4 separate regions of the Homo sapiens genome follow, and all the other regions are linked to region 4. Evidence: fine-mapped expression QTL. A gene starts in region 4. Each other region holds a variant in brackets. All regions are shown on one strand. Distances are from middle to middle.

Evidence for each region. PIP is the estimated chance that this variant, and not a neighbour inherited with it, causes the effect.
Region 1: its variant is fine-mapped to the expression of SRD5A1 in whole blood (TOPMed, PIP above 0.99).
Region 2: its variant is fine-mapped to the expression of SRD5A1 in tibial nerve (GTEx, PIP 0.90).
Region 3: its variant is fine-mapped to the expression of SRD5A1 in whole blood (TOPMed, PIP 0.96).

The regions. Positions count from the first base shown.
Region 1 is chr5:6,587,101-6,594,875 of GRCh38, forward strand. LINC01018 (long intergenic non-protein coding RNA 1018) reads left to right here. Exons shown (of 5, transcript NR_024423.2): 5 at 1-1,400. Among named protein-coding and RNA genes, the nearest start is that of LINC01018, 8.9 kb to the left of the region's middle. The variant A/C (reference allele first, on the strand shown) is at 4,226.
Region 2 is chr5:6,666,608-6,672,495 of GRCh38, forward strand. It overlaps SRD5A1 (steroid 5 alpha-reductase 1), which reads left to right. Exons shown (of 5, transcript NM_001047.4): 5 at 1,595-5,888. The coding sequence ends at 1,661. Among named protein-coding and RNA genes, the nearest start is that of SRD5A1, 36 kb to the left of the region's middle. The variant C/T (reference allele first, on the strand shown) is at 2,122.
Region 3 is chr5:6,673,516-6,681,290 of GRCh38, forward strand. SRD5A1 (steroid 5 alpha-reductase 1) reads left to right here. Exons shown (of 5, transcript NM_001047.4): 5 at 1-871. Among named protein-coding and RNA genes, the nearest start is that of LINC02102, 30 kb to the right of the region's middle. The variant A/G (reference allele first, on the strand shown) is at 2,998.
Region 4 is chr5:6,627,847-6,635,353 of GRCh38, forward strand. It overlaps SRD5A1 (steroid 5 alpha-reductase 1), which reads left to right and starts at 5,594. Exons shown (of 5, transcript NM_001047.4): 1 at 5,594-6,023. The coding sequence starts at 5,731. It overlaps NSUN2 (NOP2/Sun RNA methyltransferase 2), which reads right to left and starts at 5,198. Exons shown (of 19, transcript NM_017755.6): 1 at 5,038-5,198; 2 at 4,753-4,910; 3 at 4,027-4,131. The coding sequence starts at 5,133. RefSeq lists enhancers at 5,294-5,805, 5,806-6,317 and a silencer at 5,441-5,830.

The DNA of each region.
Region 1 (7,775 bases), 41 kb before region 4:
CTCTTGCCTGAGTTTATAACAAGCAGATGATGTTGTCCTAAGAATTAATTTCAGCCGGTGAAAGAGTACAGGCAAAAAACGTGGTCTCGGACTTTCCGGTGATGCTTAAGAACATAGTTGCAGTTTTTGTTCTGATTCTTTGTGCATCTCGCGCTAATGAAGGATTCTGCCATGATTGCCACCTCTGGAGACGTCACAGCCAGCACAGCCATGACCAGGGATGAACTTGGCCATTGTCCAGCAGCACCATGGGAGGACCAGCTGCTGTAAGTGAAGGTCATCATCCATCTGATTTGCTGGCTTTTTGCAACTACTGCGGTGGAAGTCTTAGAGTAGCCACCTTCTCTGTACTCAGACCTTCACTTCGCCAGATGTCAGCACAGCAGTGTCAGCAGCTTCGTCAAACACAAACACCACCACCTCTCTGGATCAGAAGCACATGGAAAGCCCACCTTGCAAGAAGACCCAGCTATTCCAAAAGTACCCATATCCCTGTAGCATCCTCTTAGCTGAATGTCTCTACTCCTTAAACTTGTACCACTTTGAAGAGTAAAAATTTAAATTCATTCATATTATCATTTTTTAGTTTTTAGTATAAGTGGAGCTGTTTATCGGCCATTTGTATGTCCTTTTCTTTTTTTTGCAAATTACTCCTTTGCCAAATTTTCTCTCAAATGACTCATCTTTTTCTTATTGATTTGCAGAAGCTATTTACATATTATGGATGTGGGGTGTCTAACATACACAGCAAATACTTTGTCCCAGTGTGTCACTTTTTAAAAAAATTCTTATAATGTCTTTCATCTTTAAAAAATTATTAAGCTATTGTGAGCTTTTATGCCTTTTCAGTTTATTTTCTTACATAGATAATTATATGAAGTGCAAATAGGGGCAGTGTTAGTCTCATCTTCCCAAGGCTGCACCTCAGATGTGGAATGTTGACAGCAACATCTGTTACCTTGTTTCTGTTTTTAGGATTTTAGCGTTAAGGCCAGGCATAATGGTTCATGCCTGTAATTCCAGCACTTTGGGAGGCCGAGGTGGGCAGATCACTTGAAGCCAGGAGTTCAAGACCAGCCTGGCCAACATGGAGAAACCCTCTCTATTTTTAAATACATTTAAAATGTTAACAATTAAAACAAAATATTTTACCGTTAGTATGATGCTTGATACAGGATTTCTGGTACATACGCCTTATCAAATTAAATAAGTTTCCTTTTACTCTTGTTTATTGTTATTTTTTAAAATAAGGAATGAATCTTGGATTTTAGTGTATCAATAATTATATTTTATTCTTTAACTTCATAATATTCCTTATAATTCCTTATGTCATATTAAAGATGTAAATTCATATATATTTTATCATACAAATGATTAATAAATGTATAAGCATGTCATTATATGAGAGTATACTTCCTTATGTTTCATGAATGCATCGTGACAGGCTCATTTTTTTAATCACTGCTCGATTTGTGCCACTGATGTTTTATGAGGCCTATTTATGTCGGCGATGGTAAGAGTGTTAGTGTTTCCTCTGTGGGTACCTTCATCTACCGTGAGTCTCCTGGATATGCTAGCATCACAGAATGGCAGGCGGAAATTTCCAGCTTTTTCTATAGAATGAGTTTAACACAGAAAATAGATCTTTCTTGAAAATGTGGTAACACTTACCTGGAAACCTCCCTGGCCTAGTGCCTCTTTTCTTGGGGCTAAAGGGTATGAAAATGGGTAGATCTCCAAATGCCTTTTCCATTTTTCTATGAATATTATTCCTACTCAGGCTTTTCTCTTCTTGGAACAATGCTGCTAACTTGTGCCTACTTGGCTATTTCTACTTCATGTATATTTTCAAATCCATTGGTGTGCAAGTGGACTTAGTATGTTCTTGCAAGCGTAAGAGTCTCCATTAGTGTAATGACCTTCTCTCTTTCTGTTTTCCTTGAGCAATTAACATATATTTGTCTTATTTTATTGGTCTTCTCAAAAGAATATGCTTTTGAGTTATTGATCACCTGTACCATGTGTTCTATCACACTATTCTGTGTTTACTCAAGCTCGTTAATTGATATTCAAATCCCTGTATTTTGTCAATTTCTGTTAGATGCTAGTATTAAAAATTTTTTATATAACCGTAGATTTGTCTATTTCTTATTATATTGGTAACAGTTTTTGCTTTACCCAATATTTTGTTCTAATGTGCTTTTTTAAGTTCTTTTTGAATTATTTAGTATTTTTTGTTTATTGTTGTAAGGTGCTTTTTTAAGTTCTTTTTGAATTATTTAGTATTTTTTGGTTATTGTTGTAAGGTGCTTGTTTAAGCTCTTTTTGAATTATTTTGTATTTGTGGTGATTGTTGTAAGGTGCTTGTTTAAGTTCTTTTTGAATTATTTTGCATTTTGGTTATTGTTGTAAGGTGCTTGTTTAAGTTCTTTTTGAATTATTTTGTATTTGTGGTGATTGTTATAAGGTGCTTAAATTCTTCTTGAATTATTTTTTATTTTTGATTATTTCTGTAAGGTGCTTTTTTAAGTTCTTTTTGAATTATTTTGTATTTTTTGGTTATTGTTGTAAGGTGCTTTTATATGTCCTTTTTGAATTATTTTGTATTTGTGGTGATTGTTGTAAGGTGCTTTTTTAAGTTCTTTTTGAATTATTTTGTATTTTTTGGTTATTGTTGTAAGGTGCTTTTATATGTCCTTTTTGAATTATTTTGTATCTGTGGTGATTGTTGTAAGGTGCTTGTTTAAGTTCTTTTTGAATTATTTGGTATTTGTGGTGGTTCTTGTAAGGTGCTTGTTTAAGTTCTTTTTGAATTATTTTGTATCTGTGGTGGTTCTTGTAAGGTGCTTGTTTAAGTTCTTTTTGAATTATTTTGTATTTGTGGTGATTGTTGTAAGGTGCTTAAGTTCTTTTTGAATTATTTTGTGTTTGTGGTGATTGTTGTATGGTGCTTGTTTAAGTTCTTTTTGAATTATTTGCTGTTTGTGGTGATTGTTGGAAGGTGCTTAAGTTCTTTTTGAATTATTTTGTGTTTGTGGTGATTGTCACAAGGTGCTTATTTAAGTTCTTTTTGAATTATTTTGTGTTTGTGGTGATTGTTGCAAGGTGCTTATTTCTTTTTGAATTATTTTGTGTTTGTGGTGATTGTTGTATGGTGCTTGTTTAAGTTCTTTCTGAATTATTTTGTATTTGTGGTGGTGGTTGTAAGGTGCTTAAGTTCTTTTTGAATTATTTTGTGTTTGTGGTGATTGTTGTAAGGTGCTTTAAGATTAAGTGCTGTCATGTGTTCTTGACAGGTTATTCCTTTTATAAATATCAAATGTAGAAAGTTTCCCTGTTCCCCTATTTTCTGTGTCTTGCCATGAACTGTGTTTTTTTGATATATTGACATACCTAATACCTATCATAATTTAAAACACACATACTCCTTGACCAATAAATACGACTCCTAGGAATTTATTCTAACGCACACACGTGTGCAATATTTGAAATGAAAGGTACAGCGTTATCATTGCAGGCTTTGTAGGTAATAACAAAGGATTGGAAGTAATCCACATATGTATTCACAGGGGTCTGGATAAACAAGGGACCCTCTGCCACTCTGGAAAGAATGACCTCCTTATGTACTGATAGGAAATGATCTGTCAGACCTGTGATTAAACAAAAACAAATCCTAGGAACAAAACATTCTGAATAGATGTCAATATTTGTGTAACACGGCTGGGCAAGGTGGCTCATGCCTATATCAGCACTTTGGGAGGCCAATGCAGGCAGATCATTTGAGGTCAGGAGTTTGAGAGCAGACTGGCCAACATGGTGAAACCCCATGTCTATGAAAAATACAAAAATTAGCTGGGTGTGGTGGTGCATACCTGTAATCCCAGTTACTGGGGAGGCTGAGGCAGGATAATCACTTGAACTTGGGAGGTGGAGGTTGCAGTGAGCCAAGATCATGCCACTGCACTCCAGCCTGGGTGACAGAGTGACAACCTGTCTCAAAAAAAAAAAATGTTTAACAGGGGAAAATCATATCTACCTATCTGCACAGAATATCTCGAGGGATGGACAGGAAACTGTTACTGCTGGCTGCCCACAGAGGATGGGGCTGGGCAAGGGGGTGGGAGGGAGCATTTCACAGAGCTGAATCTCTCAAATATTGAACTCAGTGTTTAACTATTCAAAACATAATTAAAATTAAGTATCCACACCTGCATCTTGCATTAGC[A/C]TTTGCCTACGTATGTCAGTCTTATTTCCATTTTGTGAGCTGTTTTGCATTTTCTGGTTAGTATGTTTTCTTGCTATTTCTATCTTTTTTTTTTTTTTGAAACGGAGTCTCGGTCTGTCGCCCAGGCTGGAGTGTAGTGGTGCGATCTTGGCTCACTGCAAGCTCCGCCTCCTGGGTTCACGCCATTCTCCTGCCTCAGCCTCCCGAGTAGCTGGGACTACAGGCACCCGCCACCACGCCCAGCTAATGTTTTTTGTATTTTTAGTAGAGACGGGGTTTCACTGTGTTAGCCAGGATGGTCTCATCTCGATCTCCTGACCTCGTGATCCGCCTGCCTTGGCCTCCCAAAGTGCTGGGATTACAGGCGTTAGCCACCGCACCCAGCCTTCTATCCTTTTTTCTTCCTTTCTTCTCTTTCCTTAGACTGATGCAATTTTGTGACTTTTCTTTTCTAGTGATTTGGAGGTTATACTTCCTATTGCTGTCTTTCTAATCATTACTCAACCATGTGAACAGACGTATTGAAGTGGTGGAGCAGATAAGGAGGTCTTCAGGTCTGGAGCTGTCCAGGAGCTGAGACAGTCTCAGCTGGTAGCTGGGACACTCTTGGGGAGTTCCCCCAGCTGAAGAAAGTCTCCCTGCCGAAGTCATGATCTTTCCCAGGGCAGCCCACACCCCACATCTAACGGCTGGTTGATGTTGGAGGTGCGGTGTCAACTCTCACCCCAACTCTGCCACGTCATGCAGCTCCAGAGCACCCCGTGGGACCCGCTGGGGCCTGTCATGCCTGCGACACAGCCCCATGTCTCCTTCAGCCCCATCCACCCAACCCTGCTTCTTTCACTCAGCTGCAGGGAATGATCCAAACTTCCTGCACGCAAATCTCTAGCGCAGAGTGTTTCCCAGGGAAACTGGCTTCCAAAGATTGATTTGTCTAACAAGTTCTAACACACACCATAATATACAAATGGGCAGGGCCGATCGTGAAAGGTGATCAGTTTTATGAAGAGGCTTATCTGTGTGCTGGTTCTGGTAATATCCCATTAGTACATTCTCTGGACCCTTTATATTGTAGTTGTTTAAAATGGGTTGAAATTTCAGAGATCTTGATACTGGAAAATGTCATTTGTTGTAACCAAAATCCACCTGGAAAAGCATACCACAGATATTTCAATTTTAATTGTAAAGTGAAGTTGTTCTCTTGACACCAACAATTATCTTATAAATAACCTAATGACCTAATCAGAACACAAATTTGCATCAATTGCCGGGTGCTTGGATACTTGGAGTGCAGGGCCAATGTTTTCTAGTTTTTATTAGTTTTTCATAAGGTAGTTTAAAATAATCTTTGATGCTGAAGTTTGGCATTGAGGATGTGAGAGGTAGGTAGTAGAAATTCGTGTTTGACATTAAAAAGCAGTCAGTTATGCAATTCTGTGTTTCCCGCTGCAACCAGCTCCAGGGTGCCCTGACACTGACAGCTCAGCAGAAGGGCACGAGGTACCTCCTCCCCAGACCAATAAAAGGAAATTAGAACAAGAACACATGAACTATGTGATGCTCCTTGGTTCTCAGGGCTGTGATTCAGTGACTATGTTAGTTTCTGCTAGTATTGAAGATTTTGCAGCAGGCAAATATGTGAGCAAAGATGACATTTAAGTTCTATATGCTTCACCCACCTTATCTTTGGATCCCCCAGTCAAAAAGTTTTATTCACTAGCAAATAGATAAATAAATGATTATCAGTAAATGTGCTGTCTTAGCACCTCGCACCCCAACCAGCCCCCACCTTGAAACACTAGCTGTCAGGTGCCGTTCTCAGTGCACTGCACATATGTTGGGGTGATCAGACCCAACACCAGGTCGTGGGGGTGACGAAGTCTGGCAGAGTCAAAGGATTGAGAAAAAGTTTGAGAAGTAAAGTGGGGCCAGGGGACCATCGCGATCATGGAGGCTGCAAAGGCCCCGAGCTCTGGGAGCCCACGCTATTTATTGGTAATCCAACAGAGAAGGAGGTGGCCAGAATGTGGGGGTCAAAAGGGCGTGTTGCATCAAGCACATGATTTATAGCTGTGATGGTTTAGCATTTGCTCTACTTGAGATAATGGAGAGCAGGTTCTTTTAACTCAAGATACAATCGATCCTGGGAGAGCAAGGAGCAAGGAGCCAGCAAGCCTAGACACATTCCGGAGCCACAAGCCCTGGATTCTATCCAAGCCACGAGGGATTTTATGCCCTGGGCTTAGATTAGGTACGTCAGGGTAGCCTTCCACTCTTTAGCACAGAGCTTGGTGTGCCAAAGGGCACAAGGGGTTTTAGACCCTGGACCCCGGACATGTTCCAAGACTCTTTTACTTTATGTCAGACATGCAAGCCCTGCCTCGGCTTCTTCCCAACACTCAGCTTTTTCCCAACACACGTATTCACTAACTCAGGCCTCAGCACACCTTACTGGGTAGGTGCTACCATCTGCCCATTTTATAGATGAGGAAATAAAGGCCCAGAGATGATAAGAAACTTGCCCAGGGTCACATAGTCAAGAAGTAAGTGACTGTATCAGTCATCTATGGGTTTGTAACAAATTACCCCAGGATGTAGTGGCTTGAAACAATATTTAATATCTCACAACTTCTGTAGGTCACAAATGCTGGCAGGGCTTAACTGGGTCTTCTGCTTCCAAGTCTCTGTAAACTCAGATAAACTTCTAAGCCCCCTGCTGACTGAATGGACTCCTTGTGATCAAGAGGACCCCAGAAAAACCTTAAAACTAAACTCCCAGCCATAGTGGGATGTGAGGTCAGACACACCTCATTCTACCCCCTCCCTTTTGTGGTTTAGACACAACTGACCGACATTAATGTTAACACAGAGATCTTAAGACTGGCAAATAGACTCTCTGTAGCAGTAAGATACCAGATTGTAAACAGGACCCAAGGCCATGCCAGGCAAGGGTTACATCACACATCCCTAACCTTTCTTCTAACGGCCAAGGGTATTTTTCTCTAGCAACTAAACAAGCACTGGCCTCGAGATACGTTAAACAATTCCAGCTCATCCAGCTCAGAGACGTTAACCAACCGACCCCATTCCACCAGCCATAACTGCAGCTTTGACTTGAACTTACTGAAATCTCTTTGTATACTACAAAGAGCCTGTAGTACAAAGCGATTGATTCCAGTAACTTTCTCCTGACCATGAACTGGTCCTGGCTGGCTGTACACTTGGACACCTTCATGTCCTGAAAAGACCTTTTGACATATAGGGTCTAACTGTAGTACATTTAAATGTTAAGTCTCCATCCCAAAGTGAACATGGGTGGTATGTTACACGAACATTTGTCCCATACACATGTGCCAGGACCATCCTGAATATTCATAGCTCCTCCTGTCACCTGTTGAATATGCATGTTTAGCCAACCAGTTCGGCATAAAGCTCCTGTCCCAGCTTCTCTTCCTCCATGGTGTTTCTCTCTGGTCTTGGCTGGAGGCTGTGCTTCCCAGGCTGCAGGATGGCCACCTTGCAGGCTGAAACCTTTACAAGAAATAAAGTC
Region 2 (5,888 bases), 38 kb after region 4:
AAAATTTAAAGGTATTCTAAGGAGTAAGAAAAATTTAATCATTTAAAAATAAATATTTTATTTCTATATAATGGTTTCTGTGAAATACACTTAACCTCTTCAGCCAACATCCCTTCATTGTGTGAGAACACCCTGACCTCACACATGTTCTTTCTGATGTCACGGAGCCCAGCCTTGCTGCCCAGCCTGGTGGGGGGGCGCGTTTTCTCGGCATCCTGCGGCAGTCCTGTGTTTCCCATCTCCCACCTGCCCTCTCGTGTTTGCCCATTTCAGGCTCTCCTGCTGTCATGTACTCTGCCCTTGCCTTTTCGGGCCAGGGTGCCCATCTTCCCACGGGCAGTTTCTGGGAGAGAGGCGCTCACCTGCTATGTCACTGTGCGGCGGCCAGTGCCGCTGGCCCATGGGGAAGCTCTTCAGCACTTGCAAGTGCTGGATGGCCTGGATCCCAGCAGGCCTGTGAACACCTTCAGCCTCTAACCAGCGAACATGTTTGCAATGCACTTTCGCAGGTTTGACACCAGCTGTTAGGCTTGGCCACGTTGTGTGTTGGGCACTCGTGGGTCCATGCGCCACCACTGAGCCACGTAGCTGGAAAGGCTGCAGTCTCGAGGCCTCATGCCAGGGGAAGTGACGCTTGATCCGGAAGTCCTGACCGACTTCTTAGAATTGTTCTTATTACATGCCTTTTTGGGGACACAGAACATACAAAAGTAAACGTGGCCGCCCAGTATGTTCGAATTCTCTATTTGTGGATTCCGGTGTTAAACTTAACTAAGACCAGCAGGGTTTTGCCAACTCCCTCTCAGTTTCTCGTCCTCATATGTTTCTACCACATTAACAATGAGCTAATTGCTTTCTATCATGATTTTTAGTCTGTTGTTTAATCTTTCTGTGTGTGTTTATAGAAACTCCCTTTCTCCATCTTGTCAAATTATTTCTAATTTTTACTCCATGCACTTAGTTGCCACCTTTCCCAACTGGCTATTATCCCCAAAACAAATGAGCACGCCTGCATTGATACAATTTATATCAAAACGGAAAATAATGTTTGTTTCGAGCACAAGGCTGAATGGTGGACAATGCCATATTGCATTTCCCCAGATTTCACCGAATCCTTACTAAGAGCGTTCATGAGCCTCCTGGTATGCAGCTGGGTGCCCACTCTACACACCCTGGGCTAGGCCAGTAGTTCCCAACTGCAGGCTGGAGAAAACTGCTGGAGTCACCAGCAGGTATTCAGGAAGCACCTACTTGGTCCTGCCCCTCCTCCAGCCTGCATGCTTTCCCCGGGGGCTGAAAAGACAGCTCCGCAATGTGCTGATCAGTATTTTCATCAAATGTCAGTAATTTTCCTTCCAGATAGAAAGGTGAATTCTATGGGCTACTTCTTCTGAATCACACTTTATGATTAGATATATTTAATTCTTCATGATAATAGGCAAAATTAAACTATAAGTATGAAATGCCAAAGTTTTTGTTACTACATTTAAAAAACTGAGTACTCTTTTGTAATGAAAAATATTGTCACTTTTGTTAGCATTGGTTAAATGTCTAAGCGACAGAATTATTTCCTTTTTTAATTTTTTTTTCTTAGGTGGTACCTCCGGAAATTTGAAGAGTATCCAAAGTTCAGAAAAATTATAATTCCATTTTTGTTTTAAGTGCGTTTTTCATGAAATTATCTTCAACTTGAAGCTTTCCAATGGCGCTTCTCTATGGACTTTGTAAATAAGTTATATCTTTGTAATTTTCCTGCTACTTTATCATTTTCAAGATGTCCTCTAGGAATTTTTTTTCTAGTAATTTTGCAATCTACCTAATAAGTACCTAAATACGCTGAAATGGAGGTTGAATATCCTACTGTGTAACAGGTCAGAATTTCAAGCTCTGGGTAATAACTGCTGATATTTTTTCTAATTTCAAATTTACCTCTTTTGGCTATGTCTTGCCAAGTGTGTATGAGACTAGACTTTACAACTGTCTTTGATGGCATTTTCAGAACAATAAATGTCACAATCCCTTCTATAGCCCCCTACAGTGATCTCTTCAAGGTCAACTGCAGTGTTGCTTCCCTCCCCCTATAGGGCTGGAATCTGTCTAGGAGCCCTCTCTCGGAGGCCA[C/T]AGAGGCTGGGGGTAGCCATTGTGCAGTCATGGCCCGGGGGAAACTTGCCAACCTTCGTGTCAGGTGCTGTGTGTAAGTGGAGAACTTGGGGATAGAGGAGGAAGCTCCTCGTGGCCCTTCCAAGGTGAGGCAAAGGCATCTGGACTTGTTCCAGCCCAGCCCACCGGGTGACATCACCGGGCAGGGAGGGGTGCTGGTGGTGGTTCATACGGAGTAAGCTGCTCTGCCTGTGTGAGTGGCTCCTGGGCCCTAAACAGGCACCTTTAGGCCATGGGTCACTCACCGTGAGCCATCAATGTGCTCTGGTCTGACATGGTTTCTCTCTGTCTTCTAGTCTAGACCTAGTTTTTTTGTTCTGTTCCCCACGTATGGATATAGTAGAGATTGTTGTCTGTGAAATTTCTCTTTTGTAGATTTTGAGTTTTCCCTTGTAGTGTAAAGAATGATCACTTTCTGTAACAATAACAAGACCACTTTTTAAGATTTATCCTGTTTGTTCTTTGTTGATTGAAACATAATAATTGTTAAAATTCTCTACAGCCTTCTTTTTCTTCCATAGCTAATCTTCCTTCTAATAGTTTTTGCTTTCTGTTTTGCTGTTGTTGCTTTGCAAAGCTTTCCCCTCATAGCCTGTACCTGTTATCAATATAAAATAATCTTCCTGTTGAATGCTTCATGACTTGAATTCTACTTTGATAAAAACATTGCCATACTGCTTTTTATCTTGATGAATTCATCTGGCATTGCTTTGCCTTATCATCTCATCTGGAGTTTTTAAATGCCATTTGTTTCAGTTGTCTTTAACAACATAATAAATAGACTTTGCCATTTAACAAGGTAGCTCAAATTCTTTTACTAATTGTTACATCGAAACATTCTTTCATCATATTTCCTGTTTTTATTTGGTTTTTTCAACTTCTTCTGTTTACTATCTACAGTGATTTGGAAAGGAGATTTCCTTTAAAACAAACAAGCTTATTGGGAATGGCTTTTATGATTTTTAAAGTAGCCTTGAGAGCTTCCAGTTAAATCTGATGAGCTGAACATACACCTTTCCTTCTCCCCTCTCTATTCTGACCCCAGTTGAAATCACCTCAAAGGAATTTAGGTGGGGGAGTGGCCCCATAAAGAGAGTGAGAGAGAGTCACCACTGCAGATGGACCACAGCACGGGTGGAGATGGGCCTGATGTGGCAGAGCAGAGAGGCCATGACAGTGCACACCCTGCGGAGACCCTGGGTCCTCACATCTGGGCTGACAGAAGGCAGAGGGAAATGAGCATCTCAAAGTGAGACCAACTAAACATGGCGCCTGCAGCAGAAAGCAGTGTCCTCTGCACCCCCACTCTCCAGGGAGAGCACAGAGAGCCCAGAAATGAGCCATGTGCCCATTGCCGGGGAAGAGAAGGTAGGCTGAGGAGGTGGCCTTTCCTAACACAAAAATTAACTAAGTGGGGAAAACCAGAGAACTAGGTGTTGGCATCCCAGGAAAAAAATAAAGTCTCCACATTTTGGCCTATAGGGATCCTGCCCCATAATGGCTGGTTACCTCCTGCCTCAAGCTGCAGGGAAGCCAGGGGGTGGCATGGCCATGGCTTCTCCCTCAGAGAGGCCTCTGTGCACGACTTCAGTCACCCAACACTGACAGAACTTGGAACCCAAAAGCCCATTTCTCTCCTTCCGTCCAGACCCTGTCTGCTGTTATCTGTAGGAAGACCACAGCCAACTGCTATCATGACCAAAGCTAAAATCCAATGAGGCAGAGAACAATAGTTGTACCCATCTCCTCCTTAGTCTCCAAGGCCAGCGGTGCATGCATTTGTGCATTCAACAACATTTGCCAAGCACTTACTGTATATCAAGCACAGCAGTGGGTGCTGAGGACGGATGGGTAGAAAAAACAGTCCTGGCCCAGGTGGAGTGACAGGTAAGAAACAAGTAAGTAGCTAAAATAATGTTAGGTAGAAAAAAATAACAAGAATAAAAGCAAGGAAAAGGGAAGGGACCCTCACTTGTGTCTGATACAGCCATAATCTTCTCTATCGGCCATTGCTGTAACCAAAGCTTAACCACCTTTCTTAAGATATTGATCAACCAGATCATTGCAAATACTGCTAATTGATTCCTTTTTATGGCTGAGTAGTATTCCATTGTATATATATATATACCACTTGTTGACTGATGGGCATTTGGGTTGGTTCCACGATTTTGCAGTTGTGAATTGTGCTGCTATAAACATGTGCGTGCAAGTATCTTTTTTTGAATAATGACTTCTTTTCCTCTGGGTAGATACCCAGTAATGGGATTGCTGGATCAAATGGTAGTTCTACTTTTAGTTCTAAGGAATTTCCACACTGTTTTCCATGGTGGCTCTAATAGTTTACATTCCCACCAGCAGTGTGGAAGTGTTCCATGATTGCCGCATGCATGCCAACATCTACTGTTTTTTGATTTTTTTGGTTATGGCCGTTCTTGCAGGAGTAAGGGGGTATCGCACTGTAGTTTTTATTTGCATTTCCCTGATCATTAGTGATGTTGAGCATTTTTTCATACTTTGTTGGCCATTTGTATATCTTCTTTTGAGAATTGTCTATTCATGTCCTTAACCCACTTTTTGATGGGATTGTTTGTTTTTTTCTTACTGATTTGTTTGAGTTTGTTGTAGATTCTGGATATTAGTCCTTTGTCTGATGTATAGATTGTGAAGATTTTCTCCCACTCTGTGCGTTGTCTGTTTACTCTGCTGACTGTTGCTTTTACCATGCAAAAGCTCTTTAGTTTAATTAAGTCCCATCTATTTATCTTTGTTTTTATTGTTGGAAACTATTATTCTAAGTTAAGTAACTCAGGAATGGAAAACCAAACAACCTATGTTCTCATTGATATGTGGGAGCTAAGCTATGAGGACACAAAGGCATAAGAATGGTACAATGGACTTTGGGGACTTGGGGGGAAGGGTAAGGGGGGGTGAGGAATAAAAGACAACATATATGGTATAGTATATACTACTCAGGAGATGGGTGCACCAGGATCTCACAAATCACCACTAAAGAATTTACTCATGTAACCAAATACCACCTGTACCCCCAATAACTTATGGGAAAAAAAGATATTCATCGACCTATTCCAGGTCCTCTCTCCACCACTGAGCCTCGTGGGGACATAAAGAGCTGCCTGCCCTCCCCTGTTCCCCTTGCCTTTTTGCAGCAGGATTCCTGAAAATGTTGACTTACAGATACGTTTTTGAGATATGAACGTTTGTTATTTCCTGGTGCTTAGGGAAGAAAATAATTGATGTTGTGAGTTGGGCGGGACTTTAGGGACTATGCTGAACAATCCACTGACCACTGCAGGCTCCCATTTATGATCTTGGGCCAACAGCCACCAGCCTCTGTTCATGCAGTCTCACTGAGGGCAGTTACTTCTTTGGAGTGGCATGCCTCTGAGCAGATAATTCCAATAATCAATGTCAAACTAGATATTGAAACAGCCCAAGTGTCCTGGTAAAGCTAGCTGTTGATACTCCTGACTGTTGCATTATTTTGTTTTTTGTTTTGTTTTGTTTTGAGACGGAGTCTTGCTCTGTCACCCAGGCTGGAGTGCAATGGTGCGATCTTGGCTCACTGCAAGCTGTGCCTCCCGGGTTCAAACAATTCTTCTGCCTCAGCCTCCCGAGTAGCTGGGATTACAGGTGCATGCCACCATGCCCAGCTAATTTTGTATTTTTAGTAGAGACAGGGTTTCACCATGTTGTCCAGGCTGGTCTTG
Region 3 (7,775 bases), 46 kb after region 4:
AGTCTGGCAGATTCCTAAAAAGGTAAACATACTCTTACTAAACAATCTAGTAGATTTGCTCCTAGGTGTTTACCCAAAGGAGTTGAAAACATGTCCACACAGAAAACCTGCACATGAATGTTTATAGCAGCTTTACTCAAAATTGCCAAAAATTGGAAGCAACCAAGATGTCCTTCAATAGGTGGGCGGATAAAGAAATTGTATCCAATTCTATTTCTATGAGGAAAATCTATTCATACAATAGAATACTAGTGTCAGAGATTTTTTTTTAACAAAGAGCTATCAAGCCATGAAAAGATAAGGAAGAACTTTAATGCATATTGGTAAGTGAAAAAAGCCAGTTTGCAAAGGCTAGATACTATATGATCCCAACTGTATAACATTCTGAAAAAGGCACAACTATGGAGACAATAAAAAGAACAGAGTTTTGGATGAAGGGAGGGATGAACAGGCAGAATACAAACAAATTTTAGGGCAGTGAAACTATTATTATGATACTTTATGGATATAGAATATTATGCATTTTTCAAAACACATAGAATATACAACATGAAGAATGAATGCTAATGTAAACTCTGGATTTTTATTAATAATATTATTTAATTAAAATGATTTATTTTACTTATTTTCATTATTATCTAAAATGTTATTTAATTATTAAATTTAGATGCTACTTAATTTTTGCTTTATTATTATTATGTTAATATCATCAACTGTAACTAGTGTACAACACTAATGCAAGATGTTAATAGGGGAAATCGTGTTGGAGAGAGAGATATGTGAGAACTCTGTACTTTCTTTTCAATGTTTCTGTAAACATAAAGCTGCTCTAAAAAATTAAATCTATTAAAAAAAAAACTGAGTGGAAAAAGAGCGTTTTGCTCATTGGATGGACTTTTTGTCCTCCATGTGATGGAGTCAGCTGGCTGGGCGTAAACTTGCAGAAGGTGGGAGAAGGCTCTGCCAGCCTCGCCCCTGAGGTTTCCATCCTCCCGTGCTCTGATTCCTGGGGTTATGCTCTGTTGCCTCTGGTGAGAGGTGGTCAGTAACTCCATGAGCTGCTTCTGGTGCCTTTGTGCTAGACAGATTTTGCAAAGGCAGGTGTGTCAACCACAACCAGAGGCCAATTTCCCTGGAGTCAGATTTCAGACCACATGCTCCTCTCCTCCTCACAATGTAGTCTCCTCCCCAGGCTGAGCCCTGCCAGAGGGGAGAGTTAGGACTGGTGGGAAGGGCTTGCCCCCTTGGCTGCAGGAAGCTCAGGTGGCACCTTGGGGACAATCCTAAAAAGATGCTCTTCTTCCAGATGCCTCACATCTACCTGTCAGAAAATTGTCACACTGTTCTGATGTTTCAGAAAACTCACTTTCATCTGCTAGAAAACTGTCTAGATAAATATAAGCCTGTGATGTCTGTACCTCTGATGACGTCCCGTAGACATGGTGTCCTCCTCCACCTATTGTCGGAAGGTGGCCCATCTGACCTCGTGGTGGCCAGTTCCCTCCATCCACTAGGACAGGCAGGCCGCTGGGAAGCGTCCTTCTCCACACCCACAGGCCCTGTCCTTGGGAGCCAGGAGACATCTCAGATGACGTACAGAATCCCTTCGTGCGGGCTCATCACGAGCCCTTTGTTCCTTAGAGTAATAGCAAACAAATGTGCTGTTGTTCCTCATTTCCATGTATTTCCATCAGTTAATTGGAAATGGTTCTGCCTGAATAGGAAATTTTTCTATCTTGGGCTTCTTGAATAGAGAAGCTCTGGGGCACAATCCTAAATCTTCAGAGGACAGAGAGCCCACATGCCACCATTCCAGTACTGAATAGCAGCTTGGGTCCTGAGAATTTCCGGTACCCACATTTTAGAGACTTTTTGTCTACCAAAAGTAACAGTTTCATTCAGGACAAGAGGTTATTCAAAAATACATAATTAATGGCCTCTACTGAGGTCTTACATTGTGTAGAGAATAATGCATTGGGAAATGCTAAACTACCTAGTGAACAGCAAGTATGGGGGCAGGGAGGAGGAACAGGCTTCCCTCTTGATTAAATGAAAAATAAAATAATGATGCTTTCATTTTTATTAGACAATATGTCATATACAAAACCCCAATTTTTCTCTTACTAATAGAGAAACCCCATCTTGCTCTTGGAGAGGACTGACTCTCTAGGTCCACTCTAAGCCTGTCCTCCTTCCTATCTCAGCATTTGCTCCACCAGCTCTCATTCAGCACAGAGTCTGGGGCACTGGTGCCATGAAGATGAATACGAGAGAGATCTTAGCCTTAAGGGGCTCATGGCCTGATAAGTGCATAAACAAAAAAATAATTTTTAATACAACACGGTAGGTGCTATGATACAAATTAGGTACAATACACATGTAAGCAGAGAGGGAAATGTCTGATTCTACATGGGGGTTCCAAAGAAATCAGGTGACACTTGAGATGGTCATGGTAGAGTAGGTAATTAGGCAGATATGAGCAGGGCAGCATAGGGCCCCAAAGAACATCAGGTGACTGTCAGGTTACTGTTGGGTGATTGTTGACAGCCAGGGAGCTGGCAATAGGGAGGGGAAATTTTCCTAACAAACAGGAGACATCTTGAGCTTGTGGGCAACAACTTCCCAAGAAAAACTTAAAATGGTGAAGTTTGATCTTCCTCTGGGACATGTCTAAGCATGCACAGTAAGGGGCAAAATGGCAGCATTTGACCCGTATATGACCTTCCTCTGGGGGTGCTAGACCAGTAAGGGAAAATTGTCCTAAGACAGCATGCACATAGCTTCAACCACCAAATGACACACGTGGTCCCTCATACACTAGCAAGTCACTGTGCACTTGGCAATTAGCCAACAGCCCACCCAAAGGGAAAGATGAGGGGAGAAGATTGGGAGAAACTGGGAAATTATAAATAAGAGCCCTGAGCCAACAATCAGGCAAAGCATTCAAATGTTTTGTTGTCCGCTTCGTCCCTTCCAAGTGTACTTCACTTTGCTTCA[A/G]TAAACTGTCATGTCTGCTTTACATCTACCTCTGTCTCTCGGCTGAATTCTTTCTCCCAAGACAAGGATCAAGGACGAGGGGAGCCCATCCTGACTTGCCACCAGTTAACAGTCATGGCAGAAATAATCCAGAAATAGCTCTAATTATTGCTGATCATTTAATTCTCTTCCTGGACACTCAGGAGGATCACATTTACCCTTATACCCGAGTAGAGCCATGAAACTAATTCTCACCAAGGTGGATATGTGGGCAAATGTGATGTGTGACACTTCCAAGATATCCCATGAAATGTCTCTTACATGCAGTTCTTTCTCCTCCTGTGGCAAATGTGAAGCTACATGTTGGGGACTGCAGTATCCCAAGATGCAAAGAGCCTGGATCTCTGAGTCACTCCACTGCCTGGAGAAGGATGACTCAACTGGAACATCCTCATTAGACAACAGGTGGGTGAGAAATAAACTTTTGTTAAGTCACTAAAATTTGGAGGTCGTTTGCAACAACTGGCATGATTTATTTAATACTATGGAAATTGGTGTTCTGAAGTGGGTTGCTGCAGTAACAAAAATATCTGGCCATTTTCTTAGCAGTTGAACAAGAGGTGGGGTGGAAACAGCATGCTGGGTGACTGGACATCTATGTTACATAGTGACAAGACATCTGGCAAATGGTCATGTGCAGAAACTTGGAAGGCTGACTCCATCACTATAGGCTCATGGCAGTTATTGGATAATGGAATGTTAGAAATGTGTACAAATTGGAATTTATTCTCTTTGGAAAGGCAAGAAATACAAGAAAGAGATGAGCACAGATGTAATTGGCTATTTTGAAAACAGAAAACCAAAGGTAACAAGAGGCCAGAAATTTAGGGCCTTATAGGGTTGTAAGAGGTAACTGCTTTTGGTCCCGACAGTGAAACATGAAAATAAAAAATTATTTGAGCTGACAAAGATCTAGTGAACTTTCTAAGCTAATTAAAGTAACTCAGGGCAAATATGTGAGTAAGGGTATAGACTTCCCACTCAAGCCCAGTGACATGAAAGAAGCTGCCATTCCACTGAGTGGGAGGAACACCGTGGAGAAGAGGTGGGAACCAAAGGAGATTAGAGAACAATGTCCAGGAAAGGTCTTTAAATGTGGTTACTGATGTATGAAATTGACTGGAAGCAAATAGATCAGAAGTCACTAAGATTTTGAGACAACTGCACTGCCAAAAAATACCATAACCCTGGACCAAAAAGTTCTTTGACTATTGGAGACTTAAAAAACAATCTTTGAGTACCCAGTCTTTCCTGAACAGAAAGTGACTTCCAAAAGCTGCACTGCCCCAAGCCAAACACATTGGCCAACATCTATTCTTAGGTGACTGTGGATAATAATGTGGAAAGAAGAGCCCCCAGAGGGTGAATTCTGAAGACACAAGAACAGGATCTAATCAGAATTTTCCCAGCATTAAGAACAGGGAAACATCACCATGCAACATCTACAGGACTCAAGTACAACTGTGGGCTAGAGATGGACATGAGATTTCCATTCCAAAGGGAAGAATTACACACAGTTCTGTTCTTGAACCATCACTGTCTATCGGAAAGCAGGGTGGCAGATAGCACATCACTCAGATCATAGGCGCTCAGACCAACAGGAGCAGGAGCAGTTCAGTTTCTGGTGGAGAGTCCTGAATGGCTCAGGTATCCTGGGCTCCAACTACATACCATGACTGGGTGGGCACCTCTGCTCTCTCCCTTGGGCAGAGGGGGAGCAAGTTTTATCATATGGGAAGAGAAGCAAAACAATTGGTGACCAGAATGGTGGATAACTCTGCCTTCATTAAACTGTTCATTTTCCTCCCAGGCTCCAGAAGACCACATTCCCCAATCCTGTTGCATATGGATGAAGCCATGTGATTGACTTTGAGCAATGTCATATGGGTATTACAGCTGCTGGCGCCTTGCTAGGGCAAACAGGCAGGAAGATTGGTCCTCTTTGCTTTCTCTCTTTCTTCTGGAAAGAGACACTTTTCTCCTCTGGCCTTTGGACATCAGACTCCAGGTTCTCCAGCTTTTGGACTCTGAACCTGGCACCAGCAGCCTGCTGGGAGCTCTTAGGGCTCAATGGGGACTGCACTGTCAGCCTCCCTGGTTCTGAGTCTTTGGACTTGGACTGAGCCACTGGCTTCTCTGGTTTTTCAGCTTGTAGTTGGACTATCATGGGACTTTGACTCTGTGATTATGTGAGCCAGTTCCCCCTAAAAAAAATCCCTTTTCATATATCCTGCTGGCTCTATCTCTCTGGGGGAACCCTGACTAAAATAGCCACTGAGACTTGGGAGTTATTATAGCTTCTAACATTACTTGCATGAATAGCATAGTATTGAATAATGATTGTGAGTTCACAAAGTAGACAAGGGGGAAGGAAGAAAAGTATTTCAGGTAAGAAAGGACAACAATGCTCAAACATATTTATTAGAGGGGGTTCAGGATAGTTTCTGGATGGCTGCAGGACTTGGTGATTCCAAAGGCCATGTGCAAAAGAGGAGGAAAGGACAGCAGGACCACATAATAAGGAGTCCTTATGTCCCGATGGCAAGTTGAAGATGTTATTCTGCAAGTGATATGGAAGCATGGATGTTAGGCCAGAAATACTATGACATAATGTTGTATTTAAAAATACTTCCCAGAACCCAAATGAAGAGGCATTCTAAAATACCTAACCAGTGTTCTTCAACTATGTCAAGGTCATGAAAGACAAGAAAAGAATGAGGAACTATCACAGCCTGGAGAGGACTAGGGAGACAAGACAGCTAAACAAAATGTGGGATCCTGTATCATACCCTGGGGTAGAAAAATGACATTAATGGAAAAGCTGTCAAAACTTCAATAAGATCTGCAATTTAGTTAAAAGGGCAGTACCCTTGTCGATTTCCTGATTTGATAATTGCCCTAGGGATTTATGGGAACTCTGTACTATTTTGAAACTTTTCTCTGATCATCTAAAACTATTACAAAATAAAAATAAAACAATAAAAAAATAAAATGCAAAGCATGGGATCCAACTGAAAATCTAAATAGCTATCAGGGAACTCCACCAAAAGACCCCCGGCAAGAGATGAGGAGAAGGACCTGGTAAGACGAATAGGGAGATGAAGGTGACCAAGAGGATCCTAGCCATCAAGGGACCACACAGGTTGTTAGGGCAAAGCCTCCAACTCCAGGGCACCCAGATGTCCACGCACACATAGAGGGCATGAGTCAGACTCAAGCAAGTGGCAGGGGTGACTTGACACTCAGGCTCAGAGATTGGGCTGGTGCTTCTCCCATCCTTTATGTGTTCAGTCCAGAATCATCCTTGGAGCTGAGCCATGGCTAAATCCAGAGATGGAGAGGTAAGTACTTACAGTGAGGTAAGTAGGAAAAAAGAGGCTGTCTCTGCCCACAAAAAGATTGAGATGGTCAACACTCAGAATTCTGAACACCTGGAACCTGGTTCTATGAAGCTGTCATGCGCTGGGGAGCCTGAGGGAGACAGATGCACAAGCTTGAGTACAGGACACTTTATGAGCAGCTGGAGTTTTGATCCCAAACCTGTGTGCATAGGGCCCAGCATCGTGTCGCTTTCTTTCCCTCAGCTCATCCCTGCTTCATTCATTCAGAAATTATTCACAAGCCCCCTCTGTGTCTGGGTCTGTGCTAGGTTCTGAGAATCTCAGAGTGAGCTGAGCAGACATACCTCTGTGTTGACGGATCTTGGAGTCCAAGGGGGAAGACAGTACTGTTACTGAACTACTAGGTATACAACTAAAGACCCTGCAATGCTGCCACGTATTTATTCTGTCAGTCTTTCTCCAAGCACTCTCCAAAGGACCAGTGTCCATTCAGTAGGACAAATGTGCAGTGGAGAAAAGGAAATTCTCAGAATTTGGAGAATTGCTAGATGATGGCTCTGAATTGATGCTAATTTGTGGGAATAATGATAACAGTGAGCTTCACTAGTGAAAGGGAAGGCTTATGTTGTTTAAATGATAAATGGAGTTTTTGCCTAAGCTCCACAGTGGGTCCAGTTGGCCATGGGTCCACTTTGCTGTTATTTTCCAGTGCCTGCCAAGATTAGGTGGAATACATGCCATCAGAAATGGAAAGACTACACACGTTGCTTCTCTGATGCTTGGAATAAGAGCTAGTATGGGAGGAAACAGCAGGTAGAATTCCTGGAACTTTTCCTTCCTTCTAGGACAATAAACCCAAAGTAATACCATATTCCTGAGTAGACTGCAGAGATTGGCATGACCCTCAAAGATATAAGAATGGTGGCACTGGCAGTATTTCTGCAGTAAACTTTGACCAGGTTACTCTCTTTGAGTAACTTGAAAGACTATTACGTCCCCATTTAGCTTACCTATTCAGCTTTTTCAGAAGGTATGGGCTGTGGATTACCATAAATTTAATTAGGCAGTGAATCCAAAAGCAGCTGCTCTTCCACGTTTATTGGAAAATATTATCACAGCTCCTGGTATTTGATAGGCAGCTATTGATCTGACAAATGCTTTCAATTTCTTTTCCAATTTGCAAGTACTGTATGCAAAGGGGTTTGCGCTTACCCAGCAGGGCCAACAATACACCTTCACAGTCCCGCCTCAGAGTCGTGTTCACCTTTTTTCACTCTGCCATAACCTAGGCTGTGGGGAACTTGATTACTCTGACATCCTGGAAAATGTTATACCAACCCTCTATATGGCTGGAATTATGCAGGTTGAATTCGATGATCAGGAAGGAACTTTCGATAC
Region 4 (7,507 bases):
ATCAAACAAAATGAGAGGTATATTTAATTTTTAGTTACTTACTTCAAATTTAGCTTGTGTCTTTTAAGAAAAAATCCTATTTGGGCTTTTTAGAGGATAAGTTAAAAGGACCACTGTCATCTTTGCATATTAAAAATTCTCAAGTGGTAAGGACTCTGTAAATATATACAACATCTATGACAAACCATCCTCAATCTAGACATTAAAAAGCACGTAACAGGCGAGGTGCAGTGGCTCATGCCTGTAACACCAGCACTTTGGGAGACCAAGGTGGGCGGATCACTTGAGGTCAGGAGTTCAAGACTAGCCTGTCCAACATGGCAAAACCCCAACTGTACAAAAAATAGAAAAAATAGCTGGGTATGGTGATGGGGGCATGTAATCCCAGCTACCTGGGACGCTGAGGTGGGAGGATCACCTGAGCCCAGGAGGTGGAGGTTGCAGTGAGCTGAGATCATGCCACTGCACTCCAACCTGGGCAACAGAGACCTTGTCTCAAAAAAAAATATAAGTAAACAGCACATAAATAGAATGATAATAAGGTGCACTCTGAACAATTGGTTGTCAAAACAATGCTTCTATAAGAATGCTTTAGGATAATTTCTCATTGTTCTGAGTCTATGGAAAGTAAGAAAAAAATGAAACTGGCCCAAGCTATGGTCCTATACATAACTTTCCTTCTAGAAAATGTAATTTCAAAAAACGTTTTCCTAAATTATATTTCACTATGTACCAGAGGATTGGGAAGAATATTACATGATCTATTCCTGCATCTTGAGCAATACAGAAAATTACCAGAAGTCCTGGAAAGCTTCTGCTTTACTTGCTTGCTGAGAGATTTAGTACCCTAAAACTGACAGATGAATTTGAATAAATAAATGTTTAGAGAATACAGCTGCCAAGAAACTGGCATTGGCCAGGAATGGTGGCTCATGTCTGTAATCCCAGCACTTTGGGAAACCAAGGCAGGAAGATTGCTTGAGCCCTGGAATGCAAGACCAGCCTGGGCAACAAGGTGAAACTCCATCTCTACAAAAAAATAAAAAAAATTAGCCAGGCGTGGTGGCATGCACCTGTAGTCCGAGCTACTCAGGAGGCTGAGGTGGGAGGATCACTTGAGCCTAGGAGGTCAAGGCTGCAGTGAACCGTCATGACATCACTGCACTCCAGCCTGGGTGACAGAGTGAGACCCTGTCTCAAAATAAAATATAGAGAAACCATCATTGATAATGGAAAAAGCCAAATATTAGAAACCCAGATCTACAATGTTTTGTTCATACCCTTCAGCTGTGTGTTCAGAAAATTAAAGCAAACAAAAACATAGCTGGCTGTTGGCAGAGAGCAATTCACCTTCATTCTTCAACTACAGACAACCTGCAGATTCTAAGAGTTTGGTAATTACCTTGTCATATACCCAGACACATTGTTAAACAAGGTGGAAAAGCAGCTATGAAATGTTAAAAGGGCTGATCAAATCCAAGTGTAACTGTAGTTTGCAGAGAATAATAAAAAACTAGCAAGCCTTATTGACATCGTATGGTTTCTCCTAGTTTGTTGGAGCCTGCAGAAGAAAATGCCCACATGGAGGTGCCTTAAGAGCACACCTCTTCCCTATAGACACATGCTGAAACGTTCCTCCTGGACAGGAACTTCTTCATCTTAAAAGCATTTCTTATCCCGTCTCTGCGCTTCTAAACACAAGGTTTTAGAAACAAATGTTTCCAGGTGATTGTGTGAAGCAGCACATACATGCATCACTGCTAAAAATACAAACATGCCCGAGGAGAATCGTAATCCTGTCTTCTTAAAATATTTTAGATGGTTTGGCTCTGTGTTCCCACCCCAATTTCACCTTGAATTGTAATATTCCCCACGTGTCAAGGGCAGGACGAGGTGGAGATAATTAAATCCCCGGGCCGTTTCCCTCATGTTGTTCTCACAACAGTGAGTTCGTTCTCAGGGGGAGATCTGATGGTTTATTAGGGGCTTCTTCCTTTGCTCAGCACTCATTCTCTCTCCTGCCACCCTGTGCAGAGAGATCTTCCGCCATGATTTTAAGCTTCCTGAGGCCTCCCCGGCGATGTGGAAATGTGAGTCAATTAAGCCTATTTCCTTTATCTATACATTACTCAGGTATGTCCTTATAACAGTGTGAAAATGGACTACTACAGTATCAGACCTCTACTTCAAGTACAACACAATCAGTGTCGTCAATCAAATCTTCAAACCAAACGACTTGAGCAAAGTCTACAACCTAGTTACCAGGAGGAAGAAAAGCTTGATCTCGTGAAGGTTACCTCATCTCAGCAATGCCATAACTAGAGGCTGAAAAACATCTACCTTTTCCACTGATCTCACTACAGTGGACAATTAGTGACCACTAACAGCAACGTAGCACCCGTATCATTTTCCTATACTGTACCCTTCAAGCTTTTAAAAATCTAAGATGTGGCATATCTATTCTTTTTTCCCTTTTTGAGACATGGTCTCGCTCTGTGGCCCAGGCTGGAGTGCAGTGGCATGATCTTGGCTTACTGCAACCTCCACCTCCTGGGTTCAAGCGATTCTCATGCCTCAGCCTCCCTAGTGTCTGGGATTACAGGCGTGTGCCACCATGCCTGTCTAATTTTTGTATTTTTAGTAGAGATAGGGTTTCACGATGTTGGTCATATTTATTCCTATATCCCAGCAACACATTCCATGATGGTGATATTCGGTCTTGATACTGGTTGAATACTGACTTAATGTTTGGCCAGTCAGCATTCATTGTGAATGTATATGCTTATCTGTGATAGGGACAATGAAAATCCAAATAGCCAATGAAAGAAAAACAAGCAAATCTGTACCCCATGATTAATGAAAATCTGACCTTGATTTGCGAACACTAAAGGTTATCCAAAAAGGAAAGATAACACTACGTACTGGAATAGTCAAAACCTCAAAAGTTGATGCAAAACGCTTAATTTGGCAGGGCGCAGTGGCTCACGCCTGTAATCCCAGCACTTTGGGAGGCCGAGGTGGGCGGATCATGAGGTCAGGAGATGAGACCATCCTGGCTAGCAAGGTAAAAACCCGTCTCCACTAAAAATACAAAAAAATTGGCCGGGCGTGGTGGCGGGCACCTGTAGTCCCAGCTACTCGGGAGGCTGAGACAAGAGAATGGCGTGAACCAGGGAGGTGGAGCTTGCAGTGAGCCAAGATGGTGCCACTGCTCTCCAGCCTGGGCGACAGAGTGAGACTCCGTCTCCAAACAAACAAACAGACAAACAAAAAACGGCTTAATTCACCTTTTCGTGCATTACTTTTCTGAGAACTCAATACCTCAAAGTTAATAATAACGACTTTCCCACTTATGTAAGTTAACTGAAGGACTGGCGCCTCCGGAGTTCTCCAAGCATCTTTACAAGATGCTATCAGCACAAGGGATCACCTTCATACAACTGAGACTAGAACCGAGCCATGAGGAATAGGTAACCCAGAAGGCACCTCCAGGACAGGTCAAGAAAGAGGTAGCTCCCAGAGTAGTAGCACGCTTGGGTGCTGAGACTCGGAAATGCTACATTGGCTGGTGCAGTCTGTACTGCGAAGTACCAGGAGACAACCTGACAGCAGACAGTGGTAACCTGTCTGTAATGGAAAACACTAAGAGACTACCTACCAGGAGACTGTTGTCAAGCTAAGTCTGTCCTTTTTCTGAAGGCAAAGCAGCCACTCTGCAACAGTTTTGATGTGAGAAAACAAGGGCTGTAAAAGGGAGCTGGCGGAAGTGGTGACATAAAGGAAGAGGCTGGATGTACTAGGAAGAGCTGGCTGAAATCAGTGACTCATAAAGCTGCAAATCGCAAATCGCATGAAAACTTGCGTAGCAATATAATGTTGATAAAAGCACCAGGTACTAGAACATTAGGATGTTTGCAAAGTATACCCAAGCTCTTTAACAGCAAATGCAGTACCAAGAAATATAATTCAAGTGATAGAGATTAATATCCCAAATAAATATTCGGCATGAAGCACTGTGGTACCTACCAACTCAGTGGCTGTGGAACTTCAACTTTCTGACCGTCCACCTCCAGGTCCTCCAATTCCTTAAAATATTTGTTCTTTAAGCAATGGAGAATCTCTTTTGCGTGGCTATTGAAAAATAAGGAAGTTTCAAACTGATCTAAAAAACTAAGTTAATACATTGTATCTTCTTAAATTTAAGACTGCAAGTGTTTTAAAACTAAAACCAACTTTTGCATGGAGAGTAAACATTCTTTAGTCACTACTTTTACACTGTATGCCTTCAAAATTTAAGCAATCCACACTGTTTGAGCCCTAAGAGCAACACTGCATTCCTTCTCTCCTAAGCATATCCTACCGTTAAGTTTTACTTGCGACTCATTTAGAAAGATGTAACTACAAAGATGGAGGGGGGGCGCGGAGGAGGGGAGAACCAAGGGGTTTTATGCATTCTCTATAAATTCTCTTACGTTCCAAAAGGTAAGACCCTCAGCTTCCCTCCTGGAAGATTCCCCAGGAGCCGAATCTTCCTCAGATCTCATTTTCATTTCGTCTTCTAACCTTGCGCCTGCAATACCTCCGTGACCATTTCATTGGACCCTGTGCTCCCCACCTCAATGCTTCCTGAATCCAAACCGCTGAAACGCCACGGTTCTCTGGCACTGTAACACTTGTCGAAGAAAACACCGTCGCCTTTAACCTCCAGCATCCTGGCCCCAACTCCCAAAAAATCAGGCACTGCCTCCCTACCTTTTGTAACCAGTAATTCTTAAAGTGGCCGGGAGCGGCTCCCTGAGAGCGTCCATGAACTGGCCCCACTCGCCCTCGGGCACGATCTTGAGCTCCTGGTAGTAGTGCTCGAACAGCTTGTTCTCCTTGACGATCTCGGGGTAGCCTCCTTCCCAGCCCTGAGGAAGGAAAGAGACGTCTACCCCGAGGCCCAAGGAGCCGCCCCCTCGCCGCCGCCTCGCAGGCCTCGGGGTCCGGGAAGCCCAGGAGGAGCCCCTGGCCCGCCCGCCGGGTCCCGGCTCCTACCGCCTCGCCGCGCTTTCCACCACCCTCGGCGCCATCCTCCGCGTCCTCCGGCCGCTGCTGTTGCTGGAGCCGCCGACCCCGCGACCGCCGCCCCATAGCCCACGCGGCCGCGCACGCAGCACGCAGAAACCGGCCCGCCACGGCCAGAACTCTAGCCCTACACCTCCCGGGACTTCCGGCCGGAAACCAAGGCCCCACGTGTCCGGGCCTGGTCCTTTCGGGGACCTTTGGGGACCGTCCAGGAATAAGCCCAAAGCGCACAACCCGTCTTTCAGAAAAGCGGCGTGACAGGGAAAACAGCGAACAGCTCTAAGGGGAAAAAAATGCTCCAGGAAGCAGCCACAAAGGCGTCTCCGCGCGAAGCGCCCAGGTTTCCCACGCGGGCTCAAGGAGCTCCGCGGACAGCCTGAAGCCGCGCGTGCGCAGAGCGGCGCGGGGTTACTGCGGCCCCGGCGTGGGTGGGGCGCTTGCAGGTCCCTCCCCGCGCAAGTGCTCGCCCCGCCCCCGGGGCCGCACCCACAGCCCCGGCTACCCCGGAGAAGCCTGACTTGAGAACCCTTTCTGCAGAGTCCCGGCAGTGCGGGACTCCGGTAGCCGCCCCTCCGGTAGCCGCCCCTCCTGCCCCCGCGCCGCCGCCCTATATGTTGCCCGCCGCGGCCTCTGGGGCATGGAGCACGCTGCCCAGCCCTGGCGATGGCAACGGCGACGGGGGTGGCGGAGGAGCGCCTGCTGGCCGCGCTCGCCTACCTGCAGTGCGCCGTGGGCTGCGCGGTCTTCGCGCGCAATCGTCAGACGAACTCAGTGTACGGCCGCCACGCGCTGCCCAGCCACAGGCTCCGAGTGCCGGCGCGGGCCGCCTGGGTGGTGCAGGAGCTGCCCTCGCTGGCCCTGCCGCTCTACCAGTACGCCAGCGAGTCCGCCCCGCGTCTCCGCAGCGCGCCCAACTGCATCCTCCTGGCCATGTTCCTCGTCCACTACGGGCATCGGTAACGTCCCCGGCCCCCGGCCCCCTACCCTACTCCCGGCCCGGCGTCCTCTCCGACCCTCCCCTCACTGCCCGGTGCCCTCTCCCCGAAGCCTCCCCCACCCAGATGCCCTCTCCCTGCCAGATCCCCCGGGGCGTCCCCCATCTGCACGGGTGCCCTTCCCCGAGTCCCCCGGCCCCGGGAGTTTGGAAACCAGAAGGGATTCGTCTGGAAAGGGCGGGAAACAAAGGACTGGAAGGGAGTGATGGAAAAAAACATGATGAAACTGATCTGGAAAGAGCCACTCAGTGGTCCTAGGTTTGGTTTCCTTAGCCGGGCGCGGTGGCGCCTGTCTGTGATCCCAGTTACTCGGGAGTCTGAGATGGAAGAATCGCTTGAACCCGAGAGGCGGAGGTTACAGTGAGCCGAGATCTCGCCACTGCCCTCCAGCCTGGGTGACAGAGCGAGACTCTGTCTCAAAATTAAATATATAAAAATAAAGAGTTAAAAAGTAAAAATGTAAAATAAAAATGAAGACTAGATTTTGTTCCCTTAGATCACGACTGTGGGGGCGGGGGGGAGGGGGTTGGCCTAGAGTCTAATGCTGATGGTCGGTCTTGAGGGCCACTGGTTTCTACTCCTTTCTGCCGGTTCCCCTTTTGGTATCTTTGGTGATGGTGGAGCTGTTTTCTCCCAGCCAAGTGATCAGCTGCAACTGGAAACCTGCTGTCCTAAAACTGCCTAGCAGTTTCTCCTTATAGGCTTGATCACTTTCAGAGACTTTCATGTCCACCTTATGCAAGGGACCCCAGGATTGTGGGGGTGGAAAGCCAGCAACCTTAAACCTTAAACAAACGAAGTCTTAAAGATGACTTCTAAATCTTTCAAGGTTTTTGTTTTTTTGAATATTTGAAAACTGGCTGTGTCTGAAATCTTCAAGCCTTCTAATAAGTTGGGGTTCTCTCCAGGTCGTATCTTTTGGCTTTTACACAGCCAAAGCAAACGACAGGTCGAAAGTTCAAAATTAAATTTTAAACGTTTTCATTCAGGCTCTGGAAAGCTTCACAGTTAAAAAGGATGTCTCTACACCCAAGGAAGTTGAACTCACTGGCTGTGTGACTATGGGCAGTTTACCCAACCTTTCTGATTTGGGGTCCCACCTTAAAACACTCACTTCCCAGAGAGACAGGAAGAACTCAGTGTGTGTTTATAAGCCTCTCTTCTTTCTCCTGGTGTCATGCATTCCAGCGAAGAGAAAGTACACAGCTCCACTACTTGGAACCAGTGTTGTACCCAGCACAGTTTTTGGTACCTGAGTTCCCTGAAAACCAGCACCTTACCCTGTAACTGGTGCAGTCTGTGTCCTCAGTGTGCTTTGATGACTTGCACTTTAAACAAGGGCAAGTCAACATTCATCAGAGGCTTAGTGAGTACTGTGTGCCTGAAACTCTTTACCATTGCTTTATTTTTTTTTTGGAATGGGATCAACCATTGCTACAATTTGA